3 linked regions of the Homo sapiens genome follow. The protein of the gene in region 1 purifies or fractionates together with the protein of each later gene. This does not show direct contact. Each region holds a gene or a part of one and is shown on either strand. Other genes may lie near its edges. The genes, in order: ARHGAP22, PIP4K2A and PDCD2L.

Region 1 (3,821 bases):
CCCAGCAGGATGGGAGAAGCTTGGCAGTGTGGGTGAGGCGCAGACGGCCTGTGCCACTCCAGGGAGCCCCAGCAGAGTTTGAGTAGGGGAGTGGCAAGGTCTGATCTGTGTCTGCAGAAGCCCCTCAGGTAGCATCAGGCACTAGGGCAGAGCATCTGATCCTGGGGAGCTTCCAAAAGTCTCGGCTCCCAGGCCTTACCCAGGTGACATTATTTGAAGCAATCTGCAACCCTAACGCTGAGACACAGGATGGAAGAGGCCTGGCTGGCTGAGGTTCAGAATGGACGACAAGCTCACTGAGCGTCAACACTGGGATGGAGCTTCACAAAGCTCCAGAGGAAGGGTCCCCCGTACCTCCCTGGGTGGAGCACCGCTAGGGAACAGTGGTCAGTCCTGGACTCCACATCTAAGGAGAGGAGCTGACACCCTCCCCTGGCTGCAGTGACGGGCCTGGGAAAGAGCTGAGGGGCTGAGTGTTCTGCCCCCAGAGGAGAAGCCCTGGGAGGCCAGGGCTGCCTGCAGGTCCTGGTGGGCCCATCCTGGGGCAGATCCAAGAAGACAGGGCATAAGCCCCATGGAGGGTAGTTTTTCCTGATGTAGAGAGAACTCTATGAAAAAACTGCCCCATAATGGGTGGGGGCACTGTCAGGGGAAACAGAATCCCCAAACGGCCCTAGGCTGGGGGTATAGTTGGCTCCACCCAGGGGCATCCAGGGCCTGGGTAAGCCCCCATGATGGGTAGGATGGACATGGCCCCGGCCCCAGAGCAGATGGAGGAGACTCGCTCTCCTGTCCCCAGAACCCAAAAGGAGGGGAGCCGAGCTGCTGTGCCATCTTGCCATTGATAGAGCCTGGGGGTAGGTCACCGGAGGAAGCACGGCCAAGAGACAGACCCCGCAGAAGGCCTGGGGTCCGGATGCAGCTGCGCCTGGTCAGTCCTCACATGGGAGCCAGCAGAGGTCCTTTTCTTCCTGCCTGGGTCAGGTTTATTAGCATGTGCAGGGGAGGCAGGCTGTGTGGATGTGAGCTGGCCTCGTGCATGGCAGGCATCCATCCTGAGAGGGGACCCCGGGCTGGCGGAGTGAGGGTGTGCCCTACACTCTGCCCACTAGGAGGGCTGGCCCACCATCCTGTCGCTAGCCCACCCCTGCCCACTGGAGCTGGTGTCCTGGGCAGGAGCCCCTGCAGGAGGAATGGACAAATGGCTCCACCTTACCCCCGATCACAAGCTCACCTGTCAAACAGTGGCTTCTCCCCACAGTCGAAGGAATCCTGCAGGTCCCTCACCAGGTTGGCCTGGCCTGGCATGCGGAACAGCCCCTCCTCAGTGAGCCCGCGCTCCCGGATGAAGTCCACACACTGCTCCACCAGCAGGGGCGCCAGGCGGGGGCCATACTTCCGCTCGTGGTGGACTGTTTCCTCTAGGCGCTGCCCAAAGATCCCTGAGCACAGAGAGGAGCTAGTCACACCCTCCACCACCCAGCTCAGTGTTGGGTGCTCAGGACAATGGAGGGCAGGCGCACTGTTAGGGCTAAAGGTGGCTCCTCCTCAGGAAGCAAATTACACACTGGGAGGATGCATACCAGAAGGCTGTGCCCTGGCCGCCCGGACACATGCTGGGAGGATGCACACCAGGAGGCTGGGCCCTGGGCTGCCTGTGGACAGACAGCAGGAGGGAGCAGTGAGATGGTGGTGTGACCTGGCCATGGAGCTTGCCCAAGCCAGGAGCAAATGGCCCTTGGGAGCGTTCATTATGCCTGTCATTGATTGGTTTTGCAGTCATTCCAAATGAGAAGCCATCCAGTGCCCATCAACAGCAGATCTCCTGTGTTCTATTCTTACCATGGAACACAGTGCAGCAATGAGAATAAATGAGGCACAGCTCACTGGACAAGACAGATGACATAGTAATGTGAAAACCATAGTCGTGACTCAGCATCAATCATTATTAGGAAAATGCAAATCCAAACCACTATCTGATACCACCTCACACCCACTAGGATGGCTACTATCAAAAGATCAGATAGTAACAAGTGTTGGCAAGGATGTGGAGAAACTGGAACCCTTCCTTGTGCACTGCTGGCAGGATGATAAGATGGTGTAGTTGCTGTGGAAAACAGTATGGCAGTTCCTCAAAAAATTAAAACCAGAATTACCAATAATCCCTCCCCTGGGTATATACCTAAAAGAATTAAAAGCAAGGTCTCAAAGAGATACTTGCACACCCATGTTCACAGCAGCATTATTCACAGTAGCTGAAATGCGGAAGCAAGCCATGTGTCCATCAATGAATGGAGTACCAAGACGTGGTATTTGCATACAGTAGAACTTGATTCAGCCTTAAGCCTGAATTCCCTTAAAAAGGAGGGAAATTCAGACAAGTGATAAAATATGGGTGAACCTGAGAACATTATGTGAAGTAAATCATTCACAAAAGGACAAATACTGTGTTATTCCCCTTATATGAAGAACCTGGAGTATTCAAATTCACAGACAGAAAGTAGAATGGTGGCTGCAAGGAGCTGGGGACAGGGGAGATGGCAAGTTAGAATTGAATGGGCACAGAGTCTCAGCTTTGCAAGATGGAAAGTGTTCTGGAGATGGATAGTGCTGATGGTTGCACGATAATTGAAATGAATGTAATGCTGCTGAACTGTGTGCTTTAAAAATGAAGACAGGAAATTTTATGCTAAGTGTATTTTATGAAATGTTTTAAAAATTAGAAGACAAAAAAAATCATCAGAAACAAAAGAAGCCAAACCCCAGAGTGCACACTGCATGACTCCATGTATGTAAAGTTAAAAACAGGTCAAACGCATCTGTGCTGTTAGGCCGGGACATGGTTCCCTTGGTGGGTCAGTGACTGGAAGGGGCTCAAAGGCTTCTGGGGTCCTGGTAACACTGTGTCTCTCCCCCAGCACTGCTTACCCAGTTATGTTCCTCTTGAGAAAATTCACTGAACTGTACACTTATGACTTGTATGCTTTTCTGCATGTTACTCTTAAATAACATTAGCAAAAAGAAAGAAAAGAAATCAGAGAGAGAATGATCTAAAACAATACATGACAAGACACCAAATGAGGAATAGAGGGAGAGAGGAAGGAGGCAGAGGAACTTCTGAGAAAATCTATGAAAACTAAATATATCACTAGGCTAAGAGGTTCCTGGCAGCCCAGGCAAAGAAGGGAAGGAGTTGAGATCCATAAAGCTGTCTACACCACGGCACAGTAACTGGAGAAACAGACTTGTGCCAGCCCCTAAGCTCTACAAGGTGCGTGCCTGACTCTTTGGAGTGTCTGACATTATTCACACCCACTGTGCAGAGACCTTCCCTGCAGGGTGGCTTGTGGGGTGTTCCAGGGGCAAGATGCCAAAGCTCCATGTCCAGGCTTGGGACTTCTCAGAGACCTGGGCACTGAGCCAGCTAAAAGTGGGGCTCCATTTGTCTTACTTAGCTTCCCACCCAGGGGCTATTTTGGAATAAGATACATCGGTCCCTGATACAGTGCCTGGCACAGAGCAGAACACAGTAAATGCTCCTCCTCACCCTGCTTGACCCAAAAACAAAGTGTATAAAACCTGAAAGGTGAAGACTCTTCCTTTGAGAACACATGCCCGCGTGGGCTACACCTGCTGGATACCAGCAATGCTTTAGGGAGAAGTGTGTACGCACATGTGTGCATGTAGTGTGGGCTTGTGTGTGCATGTGTGTGCACATGTGCTGGATGTGCGCTTATAAACGTATGTGCATATGTGTGCTTGTGGGCTTGTGTGTGCATGGGTATGCACACTTCGGGGTGGGGGGGGGGCACCTGAGTGTG
Region 2 (3,600 bases), about 26 Mb from region 1:
TATTACTTAGGAAAAATTGCATTTCATTTTCCGTAATAAAACTTGAGAGAGGAGTTTTTGGTGCAGTAATGCATGCTCTTGTAACAACTTACATTCCCAAATAGCTAAAGAAGTTGCCAGGAAGTTAAAATGAACTTCAGTGAGTCAGTCATTAAGCTGGATAAAAATAATCATTTCTCAACTTTTCCAAAAACACTCACTCCATGCAAACACGATCGATCCTGATACTGTTTTGCCCTTCCCCCTGCTCAGCTTGGGGAAGAAAAATACAAAAACGATGCTTTTAGGCATTTTAAACAACTTCACTACATTGAGGGTGTGTGTGTGTGTGTGTGTGTGTGTGTCTGTGTGTGTGTTTTCCGAAAAACCAGCATGGTTTTCTGTCATTTCCATTACGCTGAAAAGGACATACAGACATCCATCGAAATCAAAAGCAGGGAAAGCGAACTTACACTTTTCCCCAGATGCTAAGTGACTGCAGTGGCTAAGGTCATGGTCAAAATTCACAGCTCGTTTAAACTTTCCTGGCTGAGCCAACAGCTCCGATCATGTTTCCTGATCCTATCGAAGTGGATTAAAACTGCAGGAGTTTCTCGCTGTCAGATCAGCAGGAGGCTATTTCAGACCCTCGAACCGCAGTCCGCATAGCCCGCAGCGGCGCATCCTCCAATCCCCGACTGTGCGTGACGCTAACCTTTCCACGCGTTCTCCAGCCTTTCCCACACCCCCCACAGCGGGTGCGGCCAACTCGGGACCCCCTCCGCCCGCGCCCGCCGGGACCCCCGCCTGCTGTCCCCGCCCCGGCCGCCCTTCCGCAGTCGGTGACTTCTGCCTGACTCCCCAAAGTGGGGGGAGGCGACGAAGGGAGGAAGACTCCCCGCCAAGGGCTCTCCAGCCCGCACAGCGGCAGGGCGATGCGGGAGAAGCGCAGGGATGCCGCCCGACGCCAGAGCCATATTTACATCGGCTGCTGCTTTGCCAAAAAGCCGACTTGTGCCCAGTAATATTGCCTTTAAAGGAAAAAGAAAGGACCTAAGCACTAAAGCTGCTGCCCCAAATCTGCTCGCGCTCCGGTATCCTCGCCCCAGTGCCCCAGTGGGAGGCTCGCACGCGCCCAGCCCGGGACAGGTACACCTGCCCGCAAGCGGAAGACGCGGGCGCCGCGCGGCCCCCACACCGGGTAGCGGTCGCCCGGACCCGGCCCCCAGCAGCTCCCGCCGGGGCTGACAGCCGAGGCGCCGTGCCCCGCACAAACTTCCTACCTCCCAGGCTGCGGGGACCGACCTGCGGGCGGGCGGGCGGACCGGGGGCGGCACTGGCACCCACCGTGAGACTCACATGCACACGGGACCCCCGACCCGCACCGGGCCATAGATCTAAAGGGGACGCAAGTGGTGGTGCCTGGGCGGCCCAGAGGGCTGGGGGCACGCGCCGCGGGGCTGGGGGCTTCGAGGCGGGCGAGCAGCCGGAGGTCCAGGGCTGACTCCGGCTCCCCGCCCCGCAGCAGCTGCAGCCGGAGGAGGAGGGGAACGAGGAGGAAGAGGAGGAGGAGGAAGGGGACCGCGCGCCGCAGCTGAGCCCTTACCGAGTGGTTTACCCCCCACATGAGGACGCTGAGCAGCGGGTCGCTGGCCCGAAACAGCTTCACTTTCTGCGCTACGAAGTGCTTCTTCTTGGTCTTGGTCTTGCTCGCCAGGACAGAGGACCCTAGGTTGCCGGGGGTCGCCATGGCCGCCTCCTATGTCCCCTCCACCGCCGTGCTCCCGAGGCCGGGGACCCGCCCTCTCTACACCCCGGCCCGGGGAGGCAGCCGCATCCCCCCGGCGGCGGCCCCGGCGCGCCGCGCTCCGCTCCGCCCGCCGCCGCCGGCGCGCTCAGCCCCACTCGGCTCGCTCCGCCCGCTCGGCCCGGCAGACTGCGCTCGGCTCGCGCCCCGGCCCGTATCCTGCGCCCGCCGCGGATCCGCGCTCAGCCCGCGGCTGGACCCGGCGCGCGGCGAGCGGCTTCCGCGTTGGGCGCCGGCGTCATGACGCAGGGGGCGGGCGGGCAGGCGGGAGGCGGCTGCGGCGCCGCGGGCGGGGCACTGGGTGCGGGGCGCGGGGCGCGGCAGCTGGACCGTTAGGCTGCGCCTTCCCGCCCCGGCTCCGCTGCAGCCGGGCCGCCCCCTGTGCGCGGGCGACCTCCGGGCGTTCGCTCCCTGCCCGCGGAGGAGGCCGTGGGTTGCGAGCGGGAGCCTGGGGACCCCGGCTAGGCGTCCCCTGCCGCTCCCCAAGGAGGGAGAGGACAGAGTGGGCAGAGTGAGGAGGTTGGGGAGAGGAGCCCCCAGGCGTCGATCAGGCGAAGGAGGGAGGCTCATGCACTCACCCACGCCACGAGTCAGGAGACCCAGCCAGGTGTGAAATGCTGCAGGGAGACCAGGGCTTCCCAGCACCGAGGGGAAGGACCCGGGCACATTGCCGGGTCAGTCCCTGAAATGAACTTAATACTTTTGTGCGGATAACCGTCTGGCCTTTCAGACCCTCGATATGGGCCTCCTGGAGCCATTCAAGAGGGAGACTCCCACGTAATAGGCTGGGCTGTCACTGCCAACCCACTCCGTGCCCGGGGCAGGAACCTCGGACCTCATCGAGAGCCCTTGGCTTAACCAGTAGAATCATGCCCCAAAGTGCACCTTCTTCCAATCCATCACTATGGTACTTGCCATCCCTGCCTGTTTTCCAGTGCACTCACCGTCCGTGGAAATCTGTTCACCGTCTTCCTCCAGATACACCTAAATGTAGCCCTTATTATGCTGAGAATACTTGGCCTACCTCAGGAAGCTGCCATTCCAAGTATGTCTAAAACCCTGCTGCCCCCATATCGTCCTTGCAGTCGTCATCCTGTGCTATTTACTCTGACCCAGCTCACCAGTCCTCACGGAGTAGGTTCTTGGAAACTGTCACCTTAAGCAAAACAACATATAACAAAACCAAATTTGCCATAGGCTGACATATAAAAAAAGAGTTAAGTTCCTACAGCATTATTTCCGGTTACAAAAACATCACCGAACTTCAAAGTAAAAATTCAAAACACTTCTAATATTAAACATTAAAATAAATGTGAGCTATACCTCTTTTTTATTTTTATTTTTTCCCTTGAGATAGGGTCTCGCTGTGTCAACCAGGCTGGGGGTGCAGTGGTGCAATCACAGCTCACTGCAGGCTCTACTTCCCCAGACTCAGGTGATTCTCCCACTTCAGACTCCCCAGTAGTTGAGACTACAGGCGCGCACCACCAAGCCTGGATAAACTTCTTGTATTTTTGGTAGAGATGGGGTTTCACCATGCTGCCCAGGTTGGTCTCGAACTCCTGGGCTTAAGGAATCTGCCCACCTTGGCCTCCTAAAGTGCTGGGAATACAGGCACCAGCCACTGCACCTGGCCTACCTACATTTTTTAAAGATTGATAAAAACAAGATAATGGTTTGCCAAATTTCTAGTGATTAAGTGAGCGATGGTTGCTGTGGTGCTGGGTTAAGTCAAGGAATAAGTGTTTGCAAAGCAAAAGTTGCCTGTAGGACCTGCTGCTACCATGAAATTCAAAAACAATCACAAATATGGT
Region 3 (3,821 bases), on another chromosome or scaffold:
GCCTCAGCCTCCTGAGTACCTGGGACTACAGGCACACACCACCATGCCCAGCTAATTTTTGTATTTTTAGTAGAGATGGGGTTTCACCGTGTAGCCAGGATGGTGTCGATCTCTTTACCTCGTGATCCACCCGCCTTGGCTTCCTGAGGTGCTGGGATTACAGGCGTGAGCCACCACACCTGGCCACTCCAGATTTCTTTAACCACCACTCTACTCTCTACTTCTTTGAGGTTGTTTTAGATTCCACATATAAGTGAATACATGCAGCATTTGTCTTTGTGTCTGGCTTATTTCCCTTAGCAAAATGTTCTCCAGTTCCATCCATGTTGTCACAAATGACAGAATTTCCTTTTTTTTTTTAAGGGTGAAAAATATTCCATTGTATATATAGTAGTTTTTTTAAACTTACACTGAAGGTCTTGAGACACACAGTTTACTGATTTTCCTGTTTGGGAATATATATGGGTGTGTACATATATGTGGTTGTATGTGATAATGTATACGTGTCTTTATAGTAAATATACTTTATGAGAGCTATATATGTATTAACACATTTCATAAGATGAAATCTGAATTTATTGAAAAGGCAGGCAAGTTGGTAGCTGCAGAACACAATTTAGCCTCCCTTTGACTGTAAATGTGTCTTTATATATACACTGAGTTTGTTTGTTTGTTTGTTTGTTTTTTGAGATGGGGTTGCATTCTGGTCACCCAGGCTGGAGTGCAGTGGCATGATCTCTGCCTCTTGGGCCCAAGCCATTCTCCCACGTCAGCCTCCTGAGTAGATGGGATTACAGGCACGTGCCACCATGCCCAGCTGATTTTCATATTTTTTGTATAGATGGGATTTTGTCATGTTGCCCAGGCTGTTCTTGAACTCCTGGACTCAAACAGTCCGCCCACCTCAACCTCCCAAAATGCTGGGATTACAGGCGTGAGACACTGGGCCCGGCCTGCACCCAGTTCTTGATGTTTGCTAGGCATAGTATTAGCAGTACTTAAATAAAAAGTTGAAGACAGTGGTGTTTGCCTATATTTGTCAGGGTTCAGGTGCAGATAATTAGAAAAGTGCTGTTGCTTTTTCTTTTTTTTTTTGAGACCGAGTGTCGCTCTGTCACCCAGGCTGGAGTGCAGTGGTGTGATCTTGGCTCACTGCAACCTCCGCCTCCCGGGTTCAAGCGATTCTCCTGCCTCAGCCTCCTGAGTAGCTGGATTACGGGCACGTGCCACCATGCCTGGCTTTTAAGCTGAGACAGACTTAACACAGGAGTGAGGTTTTTAGTAAGTGGATAGGCTGAAGGAGGAGGCTCCAGGAATGCCCTCCAGAATCACACCTCAGAACTGGCCGTGAAGGAGCTGCTATGCCACCTCTCCTGCTGTCAGGAAGCTTAGGTGTGATCTGGTGAACTAGAGGCTGTCTTTGCCACCGAACCGTTGGCTCCAAAGCCTTGTTCTGTCTGTGTCTACACAATGGCTACCTTTTGCTATGTGGTCTTTCTTTCTACTTCACTCTGTCTCAAGTTCATGTTTCTCTCTAGTAGACCTGATTAGCAGACCCCTAATCATATCTGAAACCCTAGCTGCTAAGGGGTCTGGGAAAGGTAGTTCTTTCTTTTCAGTTCCTGCAATACATGAAGCACAACAGAAAGATATTGGAACGGATGGTTGAATAACCCCTGTACTATATCTGTCACACTCACCCCAAAAAGGAAAGACAAGTATTTTAAGTCACCTCCAACGTGCTTTTGAGTACATAGGGTCTAGAAAGTTTGATTGGAGTGTACCAGAGGGGAAGGGGATGGTGTGAAGGCTCCCTCTGGAAGGCGCGGCGGTGGGTGGCTGGAGCCGAAGGATTAGAATAAACCTCCCAAATGTGCTCGGACCTCATTCACTGAGTATTTTTCCAGAAACAGGGAAACAGCCTTGCAGCTGAGGACTGGTGTGAAGGTGCTGATGACTGGGGAAGTGATACTGAGGAGGGGCCTTCACCACAGTTTACCTTGGATTTTGGGAATGATGCCAGCAGTGCCAAAGACGTAGACTGGACTGCTCGGCTCCAAGACCTCCGCCTGCAGGATGCTGTCCTGGGTGCTGCCCATCCTGTGCCTCCTGGGCTGCCGCTCTTCCTGCCCTACTACATCTGTGTTGCAGATGAGGATGATTACAGGGACTTTGTCAACCTGGATCATGCCCACAGCCTTCTGAGGGACTATCAGCAGAGAGAAGGCATTGCCATGGATCAGTTGCTTTCCCAAAGGTGAGGATGTGTGCTGCTGAGGTTGAGAGGTGACTGGATTGGGAAGCAGCCACAAGAGTTACCCTTCAGTTTCACCACAGGACCTGGGGAAACTTTCAGGCAGAACTTGTATGTAGGACCTTTTTGCTTCACTTCCTTATCAGCCAACTTGAGTTAGCTTGAAAACCCTGCTCTATTTATAATTGCCGTTAAGAAAGTGAAGATGAACAAACAGAAGTTAGAGATGGCAAGTATTTATAGAAGACGCGTTCACTGACTCTTAAATTTTCTTTTATATTTCTAATATGTCTTTATAGCAGAGACAGGCAAGTTAGAAAACTACCATTTGATCTGGGATAATAAGATTGGGGTGAAAAAATGGAAAAAGGAAAAGAAAAACGCCATTTGTTTATTGACTCTTGGCTGTGGCTCCAGAACTGGCCCAGGACCTCAGAGATGCTTTCAGATCCTCAATTCTGTAAAATGAGAGTGATGGTGATATCTCTGTTCTCTGTTTCATCCCATGATTTTTTGAGAGTTAAGCGAGAGGGTAGATCTTGAAAGGCTTTATAAACCAAAGCTCTCTAAAGAGGTAAGAATGATCATTTTTGCTTATTGATTGACTGAGAGAGACAGGGTCTCACTCTGTCACCCACGCTGGAGTGAATTGGTGTGATCAAAGCTCATGCAGCCTTGAACTCCTGGGCTCAGGCAATCTATCTTAGTTTCCCAAGTAGCTGGGAGTACAGGTGCACACCACCATGTCTGACCAATTAAAATTTTTTGAGTTTCGCTGTTGTTACCCAGGCTGGAGTGCAATGGCACGATCTCGGCTCACTGCAACCTCCACCTCTCAGGTTTAAGCAGTTCTCCTACCTCAGCCTCCCAAGTAGCTGGGATTATAGCCATGTGCCACCATGCCCAGCTAATTTTTGTATTTTTAGTAGAGATGGGGTTTCACTATGTTGGTCAGGCTGGTCTCGAACTCCTGACCTCAGGTGATCCACCCACCTCAGCCTCCCAAAGTGCTGGGATTACAGGCGTGAGCCATTGTGCCTGGCCTAAAAATTTGTTTTAGCCACTGCACCCAGCATTTTTTACTATTAGAATAAAAAAATTACAATAGAATATTTGGAGAAATGGCCTGGTTCTTTACCAGAACTGTTTCATTTGTAGGCTTTTTCAGAATAATGATGAAGGGGAATGCATGAAGACATGTTGGTGTTTGAAAATAATCCTTAATAGAATTGATGGTTATAAGGACTTTTTATTTTTTATTTATTTATTTATTTATTTATTTATTTATTTTTGTGTGTGTGTGATATGGGCTCTCTTGCCAGGCTGGAGTGCAGTGGTGCGATCTCGGCTCACTGCAACCTCCCCTTCCTGGGTTCAAGCAATTTTCTTGCCTCAGCCTCCCAAGTAGCTGGGACTACAGGTGCGCGCCACCACACCCAGCTAATTTTTGTATTATTAGTAGAGACGGGGTTTCACCATGTTGACCAGGATAGTCTCAATCTCTTGACCTCGTGATCCACCTGCCTTGGCCTCCCAAAGTGCCGGGATTACAGGTGTGAGCCACCGC

What was found.
Region 2: the proteins of ARHGAP22 (region 1) and PIP4K2A purify together in Homo sapiens (affinity purification with mass spectrometry; 2 studies listed by BioGRID and IntAct, with this or other methods). This does not show direct contact.
Region 3: the proteins of ARHGAP22 (region 1) and PDCD2L purify together in Homo sapiens (affinity purification with mass spectrometry; 2 studies listed by BioGRID and IntAct, with this or other methods). This does not show direct contact.

The regions. Positions count from the first base shown.
Region 1 is NC_000010.11:48,458,450-48,462,270, forward strand, and holds part of ARHGAP22 (rho GTPase-activating protein 22), read right to left. Parts: intron 1,443-3,821; coding exon 1,235-1,442; intron 1-1,234.
Region 2 is NC_000010.11:22,712,598-22,716,197, forward strand, and holds the start of PIP4K2A (phosphatidylinositol 5-phosphate 4-kinase type-2 alpha), read right to left. Parts: upstream 1,982-3,600; 5' UTR 1,730-1,981; coding exon 1,586-1,729; intron 1,512-1,585; exon of another isoform or gene 1,339-1,511; intron 596-1,338; exon of another isoform or gene 453-595; intron 1-452. UniProt on the Homo sapiens protein: Catalyzes the phosphorylation of phosphatidylinositol 5-phosphate (PtdIns5P) on the fourth hydroxyl of the myo-inositol ring, to form phosphatidylinositol 4,5-bisphosphate (PtdIns(4,5)P2). Has both ATP- and GTP-dependent kinase activities.
Region 3 is NC_000019.10:34,407,254-34,411,074, forward strand, and holds part of PDCD2L (programmed cell death protein 2-like), read left to right. Parts: intron 1-1,907; coding exon 1,908-2,257; intron 2,258-3,821. UniProt on the Homo sapiens protein: Over-expression suppresses AP1, CREB, NFAT, and NF-kB transcriptional activation, and delays cell cycle progression at S phase.